2 separate regions of the Homo sapiens genome follow, and region 1 is linked to region 2. The links come from fine-mapping of genetic effects on gene expression. A gene starts in region 2. The other region holds a variant in brackets. All regions are shown on one strand. Distances are from middle to middle. Region 1 has its middle 61 kb from the start of IKZF1. Region 2 holds the start of IKZF1 (IKAROS family zinc finger 1).

Region 1 (8,471 bases), 62 kb before region 2:
AGTTTCAAATGTAGTAACCACAAAATGCATATTTGAAGAGATGTTATACAATTTTATTTTTAAGAGACCAGTAAGTCTATATTTTTAAATGTTCTGTAAAAAAGCAAATTGTTAGAGTCTATGAGGAACATTTTAGAAAGTTTGGAAACAAACTAAACAAATTATCAATAACACTGACATTAGTAAAATTTTAAAGACACCTTTTGTCCTATACAGTCTCATAATTTGATATGATTAACTTATACATTTGACTTTGAATCAGACCTACCAAACTTTGAGGAAATAGTGGTTCCAGGCTTGAATAAAAAAGGTCCCATATATTTTGTAAAGTTAGTGTATTCTTGGTTTCCAAACAAAATATAAAGTCCATGCAAATAAAAAAGCAAAAATTTATAGATCCATGTTACTTATGAATATAGAAGCAAAAATGTTAAATAAAATATAACGAACTAAATATAATAGTGTGTTTAAAATATTGTCACACAAGAATGCCCACTTTCACCACTTCTATTCAATATAATACTAGAAGTCCTAGCCAGAGCAATCAGTCAACAGAAAGCAACAAAAGGCATCCAAATTGGGAAAGATCAATGTACACAAATCAGTAGCACTGCTGTAACCAACAGCAACCAAGCTAAGAATCAAATCAAGAACTCAATCCCTTTTACAATAGCTGCAAAAAATAAATAAATTAATTAATTTAATTAAATTAAATACTTTGGAGTATACTTAACCAAGCAGGTGAAGGGTCTCTACAAAGAGAACTACAAAACCCTGCTTAAAGAAATCGCAGATGACACAAACAAGTGAAAACACAGCCCATGCTCATGGATAGAGAGAATCAATATTGTGGAAATGACCACACTGCCCAAAGCAATCTACAGATTCAATGCAACGCCCATCAAAATACCATCATCATTCTTTGCAAAACTAGAAAAAAATTACTAAAATTCATATGGAACCAAAAAAGAACTCACATAGTCAAAGCAATACTAAGCAAAAAGAACAAATCTGGAGGCATCACATTACTGGATTTCAAATTATATTACGAGGCTACCATTACCAAAACAGCATGGTACTGATATAAAAATAGGAACTTAGACCAATGGAGCAGAATAGAGAACCCAGAAATAAACAGAGTAGAGAACCCAGAAATAAACAAAATACTGATCTTTAATGAAGTATACAAACACATAAATTGGGGAAAGGACACCCTATTAAATAAATGGTGCTGGGAAACTGGTAAGCCACATATAGAAGAATGAAACTGGATTGCCATCTCTCACCCTATACAAAAATCAACTCAAGATTGAGCAAAGAGTTAAATTTAAGACTTGAAACCACAAAAATTCTAGAAGATAACATTGGGAAAACTCTTCTGGACATTGGCTTAGGCAAAGAATTCATGACTAAGACTCCAAAAGCAAATGCCAAAAAATTAATAAATAAATGTGGCCTAATTAAACTAAAGAGCTTCCGTACAGCAAAAGAAACAATCAGCAGAGTAAACACATAATCCAGAGTGGGAGAAAATATTCACAAAGTATGCCTCCAACAAAGGACTAGTATCCAGAATCTACAAAGAACTCAAACAAATCAGCAAGAAAAAAACAAATAATTTCATCAGAAAGTGGGCAAAGGACATGAATAGACAATTCTCAAAAGAGGATATACAAACAGCCCACAAACACATGAAAAAATGCTTAACATCACTAATCATCAAACAAATGCAAATTAAAACCACAATGAGACACCACCTTACTCCTGCAAGAATAGTCATAATTAAAAAGTCAAAAAACAATAGATGTTGGCTTGGATGTGGTGAAAAGGCAACACTTTTATATTGCTGGAGGGAATGTAAATTAGTACAACCTCTATGGAAAACAGTATGAAGATTCCTTAAAGAACTAAAAGTAGAACTACCATTCAATCCAGCAATCCCACAACTGGGTAGCTACTCAATGGAAATGAAGCCATTATGTGAAAAACAAACATGCACATTCATGTTTGTGGCAGCACAACTCACAATTGCAAGGATATTGTACCAATCTAAGTGCCCATTGACCAGCTAGTGGATTAAAAAAAATGTGGTATATTGACACCATGGAATACTATTCAGACTACTCAGCCATAAAAAAAAGGTACAAAATAATGTCTTTTTCAGCAACTTGGATGGAACTGGAGGCCATTACTCTAAGTGAGTAACTTAGGAATTAAAAACCAGATACCACATGTTCTCACTTGTAAGTGGAAGATAAGCTATGAGGATGCAAAGACATACAGAGCAATACAATGGACTTTGAGGACTTGGGACATGGGGAGGATGGGAGGTGGTTGAGGAATAAAATACTACATATTGGCTACAGTGTACACTGCTCAGGTGACAGGTGCACTAAAATCTTAGAACTCACCACTAAAGAACTCATCCATGTAACCAAAAACCACCTGTACCCCAAAAACTATTTAAATAAAAATAAATAAATAAAATATTATCATTAAAATCCCAGGAGTACAGGTATGATTTAATATCAGAAAATTTATAATGCAATCTGCAATCTTAATATACTAAGAAAAAAATATAATTATTTCAATAAAATGGAGAAAAATAGCCTTGAGATAGAACAGAGCTTCATTAATTTTATTAAAAAAAACAATTTAGAGTATACATCTACTTGATGAAGGAAATGTGGATGTATTTTATTTAAATTGGCAACAGAAAATAATAGCCATAACCATCATTACCATTTAACCTGGTTTTGGTGTAGGACTTGGAGAGAAGACATAATGGTATGCTTATTTTTGTATAACATGATTACTTTATGCAGGAATTGCAACAGAATTATCAAAGAAACTATTAAGACTAAAAATAGTATTTGCCAACTTTTCTGTAGACAAACTTAATCTGAAAAATTCAATAGTGTTTCTAAACACTAGCAAAAACCAATTACTTATACAGTCAATTGTCATTATTCATAGTAGTTCTGTTCAATAAAAGGAAGGAAGGAAGGAAGGGAAGGAAGGAAGGAAGGAAGGAAAGAAGGAAGGAAGGAAGGAAAGAAGGAAGGAAGGAAGGAAAAAAGAAAGAAAGAAAGAGAGAGAGAAAGAAGGAAAGAAAGAAAGAAAGAAAGAAAAAAAGAAGGAAAGAAAGAAAGAGAGGAAGGAAGGGAGGAGGAGAGAAAGAGGAAGGAAGGGAGGAGGAGAGAAAGGGAGAAAGAGAGAAAGAGGGGGAGGAAGGGAGAAAGAATGAAAGAACAAAAGGAAAGGAAAGGAGAAAGAAAGAGGGAAAGAAAGAGATTTACATAAACACAGAAATATTACACCACACTACAAATACTACAAATCCATGAAGGGTAAGCAAAATAATAGAAACCTAGACCAATGGCACAGAATAGAGTTCAGAGGGAGACCAACGTGTGTATGGTCAATAAAGGTAGTATACAAAAATAAGTGGGAGATTTTTTAGAAGATAGTTTTGGGAAAACTGATCCATGACATAAAGAAAAATAAACTAGCTCTCTAAAATGAGTGCTTTAGGTCAATGTTACCCGATAGAAATATAAAGTGAGAGGTAGATGTAACTGTAAATTTTCTAATTGTCATATTTTAAAAAGTAAAAAGAAACAGGTATACTAACTTTAGTAATATATTTTATTTAACCCAATGTGTCCAAAATATTATTATTTAAACATGTAATCAATATTTTAAAACTTATTGATACATTTTACCTCTTTTTATTCTAAGGCTTCAAAATATGGTGTGTATTTTACACTTACAACCCATTTTGATCCATCTCTAAATCTCACTGGAAACAATTTATCTATGTTAGATTTCAGAAAATTTACAGTTGAAATTTACAGTTGATTCATGTATCCAAGCTGTTCTAAACATACTTAATAAATTTTCAACAATTAAATTGTGCATGAAATAAAAATCACTTTTGTTTAATGTTTGAATCCACATTGGTAAAATTAATCCACTTATTTTTTAAAAATCGATTTAACTTGAAGAAAAAGCATATTGGTACCAATAGTATGTCTGTCCAAGTTAAATAATTTCATTAACTCATGTATCAGTAAGCATCATTAACATAAAATCAAAGAGGTTATTGTACCATAATTATCCATATCAACAAAGCATACTCCAAACTTTTCCTGTATGCTTTGCAGCCATTTTACATTATGCTGTAGATTGCAATTCTACATTCATAATACCTTTAACAGAAGTTAAAAGCTTCATGAAACTAAACAAAAGTATTTTCAATACTTACATACTGTGGAATGAAGCAATAAAGGAAATATCAGTCTCTCATTTTAAAATTCTAGTGAATTCAGATTTT[C/T]GACCTAACATAGCTGGAATACTCTGTTGTGATAGAAATTGACTTTTTCATATCTATCTGAAATCCTTCTTTGAAAAATTCAAAAGATTCAACAGTATTTATATCACAAGTTTAAATTTTTAGATTGTGAATTGATAGTATTTCTACATAAATTTGGTAGTTTTTTGAGACAAAATATATTCAAAGCATTAGTTGAGTAGCATCTCATATCACAAGATGCATCCAGAGGTACTGACAGTTTTTAAAATGTTGAATCAGTTAATCTTTGATATTGTGAGAAAGGTATTGCACTTTATGGGCAAATTTTCTGTGGCTTAGCTACAGGTCTTTTGCTTACAGTAAAATATCTTTTTTAGTCTTTTTCTTACAACTTTCTAACAAATTTTTCATAAATTAATCATGATTTTTGCCGTCTTTCTGACTAAAAATGATTTTCCCTGTTCAATAATTTAATTCAGTTTATAGCTAGCCAAAGTTATAAGCCCAGTTTCTGATGAAAATCATTTAAAAGTTTTGTGTTGATCATTTAATTCTGATTTCAGTTAATTATTGTCAATGCTTTTTTGACTATTGAGAGGAAGCATCTTATTAAATTCACTATGTATGTGCTGAAAACATCTCTTAATATTATCTACCTTATTATCTTTAAAACTTGCTTTTTTTACTGATACAACAATTTGTAATTGTTATTTATTATGAAATTTGTGACATACTTTTTTCCAATCTTTGTCTTTTTAAAAATGTTTCCCATTGTATTACACACATCTGCATCTGCATTTGAATCTGTAGCAGTAGTGTGATTTTATTTTAAATGTAAAAATTTGTTAATATTATTTTTACACTGAAAAAAACAAACTATATCAAATAATAATATAATTTTTAATGTAATTACTGATTATAATTTACTTAGGCATCACTCTAAGTCTTGATGCTTTTGCAATATATTAAAATAAACAATCTACAATGTTACATCAGCACATAGAAAAAATCATTTGGACTAAAAAAATTGTTTTATGCCAATTATATTGGTAATGTTTATGTCTGCCAACAGAAATAATGCATGTGCCCAGCACATACACCACAATAAAGCAATATCTTACATGGTGCAATAGTTAAACTCAAAACAATACATTATGTATGATTTTACACTGATTAAGTTTTTAAGTTTAAAGTAATTAAAACCAAACAAAATTAAAATTTAGTTTCTTAGTTGTACTAGCTACCTTCAAGTGTTTGGTAGCTACATGTGACTCTTGGCTACTAAGTGAATAGCCCAGATTGAGCTGAATTAAAGATTTAAATGTAAAAGAAGAAACAACAAAGTCTGACTAAGAAAAATGTACAGCAGTATCTTAGTGATCTAGAAGGGTAACAAAAGCATAAACCTTAAGTAAAGAAAACTGCCAATGGAGCATACAAAAGCTAAATATTTCTGTTCAGTAGCAGGAACCGTGGACAAGACTTATAGGTAACAAAATTAGAAAGCAAGATAGAGTAAAGCATTTGGAGATTATGTGGAATGCACATCCTCTCTTGCATGGCTTGTGGAGGTATAGACTGACTTTAGTGATTGCAGAGAGCAATCTGGTACCATTAGTTAAATTAAGTATAATCATACCCCAGATATAACCCAGGAATTCTCAACAGCACGAGTATCAAGATGTTCCCTATAGCTTTCACTATGGCGGCACAAGAAAATATACAGTTGAATACCACAATGAAATTTATGCAAGAAGAATGGATCAGTAAAATGTGGTGGGTATTTGCAATGGAGCATTACTTAACAGTTAGAAGAAACAGATTAGATGTACATAGGCAGACACAGAGAAATCTTTAAAAATAGCACTTACTACGAAAAAGTAATAAAGAAAATGAGATTATAACATGTGTGTGATGCACCTGTTACCATGCACACAGTTAGCAATGCACATTTTGAAAGAACACCTCCAAAATACATGTTGAACACATGATGTTGATTGTCTACATGAGGAGAACAATGACAATGGGGTGGACTAATGGTTATAGTGTATCATAAACTTGGAAGTGTGATTAAATATTCAATTTTTGAGGTCCATGAAAATTGCTTTTAAAAACTGAATTCCATTTCTGGCATTATGGTAGAATGTCCTGAGATACTCTCCCATGGAACAAACAAAATACAATATAAAACATATTTTAAAATATATTTAATGTATTTCTCAAAATCAAATAAATAATTAAAAAAAGAATCCAATGACATAAGCAAGTACTTAAGCTGTCTTTTTCCCAGAAGCATCAGTTGAATCCTACTGAAGTTAACTTTCTGGTTTCATGTCTACACTTGGAGCACAAGGAACAAGAAATAAGCCTAGTACTTTCCCAAGTTGGGGCACCAAAGAGATGTCTACTTAAAGTCAAAAGACAGAAGGATAGGGCAATTTAGAAACAAAATTACCTCATTTAAGGACACAAAAGTAAAAGTTGCCTACCTTGACAATGACACTATGTAAAAGGATAAATATCTCTACTGAGATTTCATTGTTCCTAGATGACATTCACATGCATTTTCAAACTCAAATTCTGGCTATCTGTATTGCCTGAAAAATTTAAAGCCAGGAATTCAAGCTGTCTCAGATTAATAGTACCCATAATTTCCTAGAAGGAAACACAAATTCTTTCCAAGAAAACCCATTTCAATTCATTTCTCCCAGAATTTTCCCACAGATAAATGTCAAAGGAACATCAAAAGCAAAAGGAAATAGGGTATCATGAGTAACAACCAGTGATATGAAAATATGATTAGGCATGTTAGAAAATAAAAGTATATCAAACTTCTAAAAATTTCTTAAAGTATTTCAATTTGAAGTACAATAGAAAACAAATTATATATAGCTGAATAATTATTTATCTGATACTTAAATCTTAAGAAATTATTTAGACTATGCACATAAAGAAAATGAGATGCTAAATATAAAGAGAGGTTATTAAGAGACATGGAAAATAGATTATGATGGTTTAACATTCATTCAGAGTCTAGTAGGAGAGAAATAGGACAATATCTTTTGTGGTAATGGTTGAAAATATTCAAGAGCTGATTATTAGACGTTTCTCTTAACATTCAGGTAGCCCAGATAATCTCAAACAAAATAAATAAAATAAAATTCATACCTAGATACAAAGTGCTGATGTTTCAGAACACCAAAGACAAAGTAAAGATCTGAAAATTAGTCAAAGAAAAGACAAAAACCTGAAATTAAATGGCAATTCCACTGACAGCTGACTTTGCAACAGCAGTAATGGAAACCAGAAGACAATGGAATAATATCACGGAGGTGCTGGCAGAAAGATCTATCTAGAGTTGTACATCTAGTAAAACTCTAGAATACAGAGGAAAAATAGAAAATGTTCTCAGATAAACAAAAATGGATCTATAGACACCAACTGAAGAGAAATTCTAAAGGTGTTTTTTTAAATAAGAAATATGAACTCAGATGGAAAATCTAACCTGTAAGAAAAAATAATAAGTAAATACATTAGTAAATCTGATGGGTAAATCTAAATAACTATTGACTGTATGACAAAATAATAATAGAAATAATAACAACATTTAATTTTAGGTGTTAGAAACAAGCAAATCTTAAGTACAGACATGAATGTAATTTATTTAAAAAATAACTGAAATATATATAACCTGTGAAATTTAAATTACACTTCCAAATAACTCCTCTATTGAAGAATATATAACTTTTGGAACATTATTAAATTGTTAAATAAACATTACTTCAAAAACTACATATCAAAACACATAGGCACATCACACCCATCAAGATGGCCAATATCAAAAATAATAATAATAGCAAGTGTTGGTGAGGATGTGAAGATTTGGTACTCTTTTGCTGGTGGGAATGTCAAGTAGTATAGCCACTGTGAAAAACAATATGCCAGTTCTTCAAAAAAATTAAAAATAGAATTACCATATGATTTAGAAATCCTACTTCTGGGTTATACTCAAAAGAACTGAAAGTAGAATCTCAAAGAGATCTCTGTACATCCATGTCCATAGCAGCACTATTCACAATTGCTAAAACTTAGGAGTAACCCATGTCCATCCATAGGTGAAGGTATAAACACATGGTCTTTACATGCAATGAAATGT
Region 2 (8,443 bases):
AACTGGGAAAAAGAAACCAAAGAAACAGTGTCTTTGTTGCAACAGTTTCATCCAAGTCCTGGGTATATAAATAAAATAAAATTTTATTTTTTAGCAAAAAAAACCTTTTGCTGTTATTTAAAAATATTCTTGCTGTTTTCCAACCATCAGAGGAGACATGCACTTTTCATTGCTGTTAACAGATCTTTTTTTATTGAAGAAAAATACAATTATGATAACTTCCATAGATTATTTCATTGAATTTCACGTAATTCTATCAAGACCATTGTGAAGTAGATGTGCTCTGCGGATGAGAAACTGAAGCTCAGGCTTTAAACAACTTGCCAAACACAGTTACTAAGAAACAAAACTATTAACCATATCGTATCACCTCAATCATCCTTTTACTTTCCTTTGAAAGTAAAAAACTCACTCTCTTTTGAAAATCCCATCCAGGCTCTACCTGGACAAAAGTGCCTAGCTGCCTCTCTTTCCATAGTGAGCTCTGAATAAGTAGCCTTTGATTAATCCTATAGGTGGTCTCTATTCTTTCGATAATACAGCCTCATAAGAAGAAAAATTGGTGATTTAGCAATTATTGCCTGAATAAATTAAAGTGTTTTATTTAATACTTTAACATTATGAAGAGGGCAATATATGAATTAATATGTAAATAAAATAAAATGACTTTAGACATAATATGAAAAAAAACAGTTTTACATGTTCCAATTTCTCCCTATATGTTTTCCCATCCATTGTGCATTTTACTGTTGTCCCTAAGGGTTTGAACATTTGATTTATATCACCTCTCTGGTCCCTCTGAGTCTATCCACAGACCCCAGGTTATAATAATATAAGCTTGACTTCCTTCAACTCCACCCGGTTGGGGGCAAGGGTAAGGCATGGTACCTGCAGCCTGACTGCTGTTTTGTTTTGTTTTGTGACAGGGTCTTGCTGTGTCGCCCAAGCTGGAGTGCAGTGGTGTCAATCATGGCTCACTGCAGCCTCAAACTTCTGGGCTCAAGGGATCCTCCTGCCTCAGCCTCCTAAGTAGGTTGTTGGGACTGCAGGTGCATACCATAACACCTAATTTTTAAATTTTTAATACAAATGGGGTTTGATTTTTAAAGTTTAAAATTTTTTTGTACAAACAGGGTCTTGCTTTGTTGCCCAGGCTGGTCTGGAACTCTTGGCTTGAAGTGATCTTCCCACCTTGGGCTCCAAACTCAGGTGTGAGTCACTGCACCCAGCCAAGGAGCCTGACTCTTCACAGTGCACTCCTCATCTCATTGGGACATTGGTTGGGCTAGCAGGGAATAACTGTTCTTACTTGGAAAGTACTCCTCTCTGTCAGGCATGTGGCAAGGTCTTCCATATGTGATCTCCTTAACCCACAAACAACCCCACCAGGAGGGTTATATTATCACCACCAATTTACAGATGGGGAAATTCAGGCTTTGAGAGATTAAGGACCTCAGTCAGATTCATAAGCCCAAACTATCTGGGCTCTTAGCCCCACATGCTCCTGCCTCAGTGGGCTACACCTTGGTGAGATGCCTATGTTTCGGTCCACTGGTCCACTCCTGAAGACCAAGGCACAGGTTTAGAGAGACGTACCAGCGGCTAAAGGTACTTCTGCATCCAAGAACTAGAGGTGTCCCGTGTCCCCTTTACAACATTGTTGGCCTCCCTCTGGGCCTTGTACCTTATGTTTATTGCCTCATTTAATCCAGGTAAGGAGTCTTTAGGATTGGTGGCATGTATTCTTTTTATAGACAAGGAAGATGATGCTCAGGAGTTTGGATAACCTGCCCAAGGTCACGCAGTGGAGGAGAGGACTAGAAGGTAAATCAATGGACCTTTCACTACCTTCCCCTTCTCTGGGCTGTAGCAGTGAGTTAACTGGCTCAGACTTGCCCAGCGGAATGCCCTTCAGGACACACTGAGTACTGTAGTAAGAGCTGCATATGCGCTCAGGGAGAATGTGGATAGACGCTGTTTGTGATTCACGGGTAAAGGGCCTTCTCCCAGAGGCAGCAGAGGCAGATCCTGTCTCTGGTGTGCCCTGGCCCCCGACTTGGAGGCCTCCTGGGCCAGGCCAAGACCTTCCCCGGCAGCGATGGTCTCCAGCCACACTCAACTGCCCTGAAGGGACATTTCCTGCTTATTCCCTTGCCCGGCTGTGTCCTCCACCCGGAAGGCCTGTGCCTTCTTCGCCTGCATGTCCTACCCTGAGGAGGCTCCCTTGGTCTTTCATCGCTCTCCCTATGGGTCTTCACGCCTTCCCGAACCACCGCGCCCAAGCAGGAGCACGTTCTCGGCCCTCTTCACAGGGCGCTCCTCCTCACAGGGGTGCCCGGGATTTTTATTCTGTGCCTTCCTGGTGGCTCCTACAAGTCTGGAAGGGCAGGAGGCGCATCTCACTCCTCTGGGTCCCCTCCCCTAGCGCCTGGCGGGAGCCCAGGCTGCATTTGTGGAATTCATGACTTTTTCTCTCCTGCTCAAGCTGAACACATTGCTGGCTCCTGCTCGGGTGGAGCCCGGCTAATTAGAGTGAGGGGCTCCCCGTAGGGCGAAGGGGTGCGCTGTCAGATGTGGCATTCCCGTTTTACGGAGACACACGGTGTCTTACACGCCAGGGAGAGGTCTGAGACGCAAAGAGCCGTCGAGCGGGCTGCGGGATTGCTTCGCTGTCACCTCCGCCTGCAGCCACCCTTCCGCACGCACTTGTGTGTGCACCCAGGCCAACATGGAAGGCGCCATCCTAACTTCTGCCGTGAGCAGGTGGGAGGGAAGAGAGACGAGAGGTATTCCATTGGTTGTCTGGGAAAATGAATTGCACCTTCCCCTCCCTTGCGGAGGATCAACTTTTCCCACCCCCTCGGGTGGGCACTCGCATCCTGGGGCCGGAGCCTGAACCCGGGAGCCAAGGGGCCCCAGTTCCAGGGACGTGAAGCTGAGCGTACAGCGGGCGCTCCCAGACACTGGGGAAAGTGCTTTACGATGTCCCGAGTCCCTCCAGTCTCGCCAGCGGGGCGAGCGTGAGGGTGCCCCGACCGACCAGCGGCCCCGGGTGCAGGGTGGCGGGCCCGGCGGCGCGCGTCCCCCTCCCCCTCCTGGCGGCCCGCACGTGTCGCCCGCGCCGCGCCCCCACGGGTTACGCGCGGGTCCCGCAGCGCCGCGGCCGAGCCGGGCTGCCCGGCCCGCGGACACAGCGCCGGCCGCCGCATCCCGTGCGGGGCCGCGGCGCGATGCTGCGCTGGAATGAGGAAGCGCGGCGGCGAGGGGAGGGCCCGGGCGCGGTGCGCGCGGGGGTGGCGGCGGCGCGCCGAGCGGGCCCGGCGCGGGCGAGCGGGCTGCAGCCGGCGGCGGCGCCAGCAGGTACGGCCCGCACCCGCCGCCGCCCCGGCGGCCTTTGGGGGCTGAGCCGGAGCCCGGCGCGATTGCAAAGTTTTCGTGCGCGGCCCCTCTGGCCCGGAGTTGCGGCTGAGACGCGCGCCGCGCGAGCCGGGGGACTCGGCGACGGGGCGGGGACGGGACGACGCACCCTCTCCGTGTCCCGCTCTGCGCCCTTCTGCGCGCCCCGCTCCCTGTACCGGAGCAGCGATCCGGGAGGCGGCCGAGAGGTGCGCGCGGGGCCGAGCCGGCTGCGGGGCAGGTCGAGCAGGGACCGCCAGCGTGCGTCACCCCAAAGTTTGCGGGGTGGCAGGGCGCGCGCTCTGGCCACCCGCCGCTCTGGGCGGCAGCTGGTGGCAACGCAAGGGCGCGGCGGGGGCGGCCGGCGCGGAGGGGGCCAGGTACGGGGCCCGCGGGCGGCGCTGTGCGCGCGGGGCAGCCGGTCGGCCGGGAGCGCGAAAGCCTGGTCTGAGCCGGCTGGGGGCGGGGAGTGTGGCGGAGAAATGGGGAACAATGCGAGTGAGCAACTTCAGGAAGTCATTGTGAAAGAAAGCTGGGAAGAGCTCCGCGGCCAAGTTAGCAGGACACTCTAACAAGTGACTGCGCGGCCCGCGCCCGGGGCGGTGACTGCGGCAAGCCCCCTGGGTCCCCGCGCGGCGCATCCCAGCCTGGGCGGGACGCTCGGCCGCGGCGAGGCGGGCAAGCCTGGCAGGGCAGAGGGAGCCCCGGCTCCGAGGTTGCTCTTCGCACCCGAGGATCAGTCTTGGCCCCAAAGCGCGACGCACAAATCCACGTGAGTGTTTTCAAATTGAATTTCAATAGGAAAACTTGGGGTAACTGGTGAATTTAAAAAAAAAAAAACACAGTAAAGAAAAGCGGTAAGGTTGGTAGACCCTGGTGTCGCTCAGGTCCGCCTCTCTTTTCTGAGGACAGTGAGAGAGTTCACTTCTGTCAAGCGTCTGTTGCTCTGCACTGTGCCAGCAGGTGCAGGACCAGGCCGACATGGGACACTTCTGAGCAGCCCCGCTGTCACCAGGAGAGGAGTTCTAGCTCCCAACCATATTTAAATTTATGTAGACCTACATATACCCACGGAAGTCAGCCTTTATAAAGTCGTGTGTAAAGAGTTTTCCTTATATTTGAGCCGGGAGCTTTCTTTTTATACTATAAATATGATGAGATCGAGTCTGAACTTAATTTCTGCAAGAGAGGAATTATCCCGGCTTTGAAAAGTTAGTCCTTTTGCTGACCGCAGGTTTGACGCTCAAGTCACCAAACCTTCTCAGGAAAACCCTTAGTAATATTAAGGCATCAGGTTACTTGCGGTTATATTTGAAATGTATTTTAAATATTTGTCAAGCATCGCTGCTGATGCCTAAGGAACCTCGTGAGGGCTTGTTTTTCCTTCTAATTTGGAGGCATCTAATGACCGAAAACCGTAGCGATTCCATAGGGTCTGACCAGGCACAGCTTTCAAATGCAGCTTCCCTCTCTCTAGGGACTGCAGCCCACCCAGACTGAATTTCAATGCGGTGCGCTTTGCTTAGGTTACCCACTCACAATTTCCCACTGCGCCGCAGGCAGTATATTTCAGCTTTGAGATACCTTGTTTTAAAATTCCAGACAAAATGGTGTTGAGGAAATGTCTCCTTACTAGTCCCATCAACTTCTGTTAAAAGAGGAAAATTTATGGAATTTGAAAATACTGCGTATGATATTTAAACTTTCATAGACATTCAAATGCTTTTAAGGCCAGGTTCAATTTGGTTATGAGTCGAGGGGTGGGGGGGACCCACATAGAAATGTCCTGGGTCCTCTTGAGTTTATTTCTTTGTTTGAAGATGTTTGTTCAATGAGTTTTATTGTACTCATCTTTTATATGGAATTTTAAAAAGTAACAATTTCAGTATTATTTATATTAGAATGTGTCAGAATTATTTCCGTGACAAATCAGATCATTTGGGCTATGGCTTAAAATGTACACGAGGCAAATATTCATGACAAGAAGATTCACCTTCTTACGCTGGCATCTTGTAAAATGCAGAACAAGTTAAAGAAATAATGTGTACACATACAAATAATGATGTCACATTAAAAATACTACACTATTCTTGCTTGATGGAATGTATCTGATTTCCAATTTCACCATGAACATATTTCATACATTTTTTACATGAAAAAAAACGTGACTCTTAAGTCTCACAGTCAATCAGAGCTGGTGACCAGAACATTTTATTGAACTAAATGGTCATGTTTTCTTCCCCTTTTGTTTCACGGTGAGAGTTGAAGGAAGGAGTTTAGAAACTCTCCAGTACTTGTTTAATTCATCAGTGTTCTAATTAGAGTGGTACCTCTTGGAAAACTACACACCCCCCTAATGCAGAAACATCATAGCAATAATCACCCACCCTCAGGGTCTCCAGGAGACCACAAGGGCTGCAGATAAAAGTCTGGATGTGTTAGGTTTGACCCTTTCGAAGAGTTTTACACAGGCTCCTAAAGAGAAGATCAGCTGTGGCCGTTTGTAGCCATTTCCTTTGTCGAAAAACTAAGATCGCAGTGAATGTATTAGCCAAGAGGTCTAAAGCCCTGTTGTACTGCAGGCCACTGTCTTCCTTGTTTGACTAGAGACTTGGAGTTTGAGAACAGTGGTTCTTTGGTTTGGATACATTTTTTGTTCTTGATTTGGATGTGTGTGTTTCATGCGTGGTTAATATAGCATATTTTCAATATAAATGTCAAAAATTTTGAAATAGGAAAGAACTCTCTATATATTAATGTACTTATACACACACTTCAAGATTATGCATTTATTAACAGATACATGAAATAAATTCCATGTGCATATGCACATATGCACACAGAGCGTGCACACACACAGCATGCACACAGCGTGGAGTGAGAGGCATGGGGCAGTGTGGAAGAGTTTTAACATCAAACAGACCTGAAATGAGTATTAAAGGCCCCCTTTATTTTTAAACTTTTACTAAAACAAGATGGATTTCCCTATGTTATATAATGGTGAATTTTAGGCATAAATAACGTTTTTTGAGTGTTGCATAATTGTACGTATTAATGTAATGTAACTGTGGTTAACGAAGAATTCATCAAGGATATCACTGTTTTGTGGCATTTTTTTTTTCCTCCTCTAATCTTTGGACTTGTGAAATAATTTCACTATGAAATAAATGTTGGTTCTTGTCATATTCTAAGGGAGATTGATGTAAGTGGCTCCACTCCAGCTTACAGAAGGTAAACCACGACCTTTTTGCGTTCTCTGAAAACGCTTGTCTTCCGATGCCTCTGTTTCTAAGACTGACAAGCACTCTGGGGGCACTGTGACGCCTGCTTCTAGCGGCAGAGTTGCTGCAGCTCCTGTCCTGGCTGTGAACATTGTTCTCTCTCTGGTGTCTCTATGTTCATAACTACAGAGACTTCAGCTCTATTCCATTTCATATTTGTGCTGAATAATCATTCCATTTTATGGGAGAAAACACAAGATGTAAAAGCAACAAGTGACCCATCCTTTGAAGCTTACAAGAAGAGAAACATTAATCTATTTCACGTCTTGAAAACAGATCAGTTTTATTTTGCTCAAAAAGGGCACATGTACATTTTTGATCTAGGTCTTAGAAACGTAGAGTTTCAGAGGATCAGCATTATACACACTGTCACACACACACACACTTAAAATTCAGATGAGGAACAAGATAGGAATGAGGTTTTGTTAGGGACGCAGAGCACCTAAAACCAAAGGATATCGACAGTAACAAAGCTGTTTTTACTGTAGTGCTGACTGAACACTCATGCTGGTGTCTTCATGTGGACCATGGCTTTCTTGTATTTCTTTGCAGTTTAATAAATGACTTCATATCTCAGGTTACCTTTCCACATCTCCTGGAATATATGTTTATGTCCTTAAAGTTTCAGTGTCGTCACTTTAGTAGCTTTAGTTTGAGTTTTTAAATGTTTGGTAATATTCCAACAAATATTTTTTAAGACATTATGAAACCTTATGAAGTGCCATATATTACAAGTGAGATAAAACAGCAAGCAAAAGAAGGTTTGCAGAAGGTTTTTAAGTGGCGAAGTGCGGGCCTGCCCATTTTGGTGTCTCCTTGGTGGTTACTCCTGAGAAGGGCCTGGAGGAAGAGCAACTGAGGCCTAATCTACAGGCAACTGCCAAATTGTTTCAGTTGACGTTTTTCCCTCTCATGTTTGACTATAATAAATAGGTAGTTGCCAGTGGAGCCTTCAGCCAACCACCTGGTAATAAACTGTTAAAAATGGTGCAAACCCTAGGTCACAGGTGTGGGGGCCATTTGTCTTGCCTGTTAACAGGCCTGGCCTTAATTCTTTTCTCCCATGGCCATTTCTGCCTTTGGGGAACTCACAATTCCTGTTGACTAAAAGAGCACCCTTTTCCACCACAAGCCTGACAAATCAGACGTCCACATAATTTCTGAACTCGTTTTGGTTAGGACAGGAAGCACAGGCTCCCTTCCTGTCTGTGTTTTCCTAAGAGAAAACGGTCTTCCCTCCTTTTTTGCATATTTGGCAAGTGGTTCCACCTTTCTCTGCACCCTGGTGGAGTGTGAAGGCAGCAGAGGAACCTTTTGGAGGAGGAAGAGGACACAGAGGCCCTGTAGCCAGGCACCAAGATCCCTCCCAGGTGGCTGGGTCTGAGGGGAACTCCGAGCAGCCCTAGGTCCTCAAAGTCTGGATTTGTGTGGAAAAGGCAGCTCTCACTTGGCCTTGGCGAGGCCTCGGTTGGTTGGTGAGTGCCACACGGTTTCTTTGTGTGCTTGCATGGATTGGAATAGCCATTGTGTTCTTCCGTCTTCCCTGCTGGTGTTTCCACAGTGGGTGGCCTGAGCCCAGAGCAGCTCCCCATATCCCTGTGCAGGCCACCTGTCTCGGGTGATGGAGAGCATCATTATGCTCCGTCTGAACGCTCTGCTTTCGGATGGCCCCATGCTCCACCTCCTGATAGCTCGTGGCGCGGGGCCACGGCTTAACAAATGGCTGAAAATGGGTCCTAATTAGTGGAAAAGTGCTTTCTTCATAT

The links. PIP is the estimated chance that this variant, and not a neighbour inherited with it, causes the effect.
Region 1: its variant is fine-mapped to the expression of IKZF1 in whole blood (INTERVAL, PIP above 0.99).

The regions. Positions count from the first base shown.
Region 1 is chr7:50,239,174-50,247,644 of GRCh38, forward strand. No RefSeq gene overlaps it. Among named protein-coding and RNA genes, the nearest start is that of IKZF1, 61 kb to the right of the region's middle. The variant C/T (reference allele first, on the strand shown) is at 4,337.
Region 2 is chr7:50,300,755-50,309,197 of GRCh38, forward strand. IKZF1 (IKAROS family zinc finger 1) reads left to right here and starts at 3,962. Exons shown (of 8, transcript NM_006060.6): 1 at 3,962-4,168. RefSeq lists an enhancer at 1,919-2,420 and a silencer at 3,275-4,074.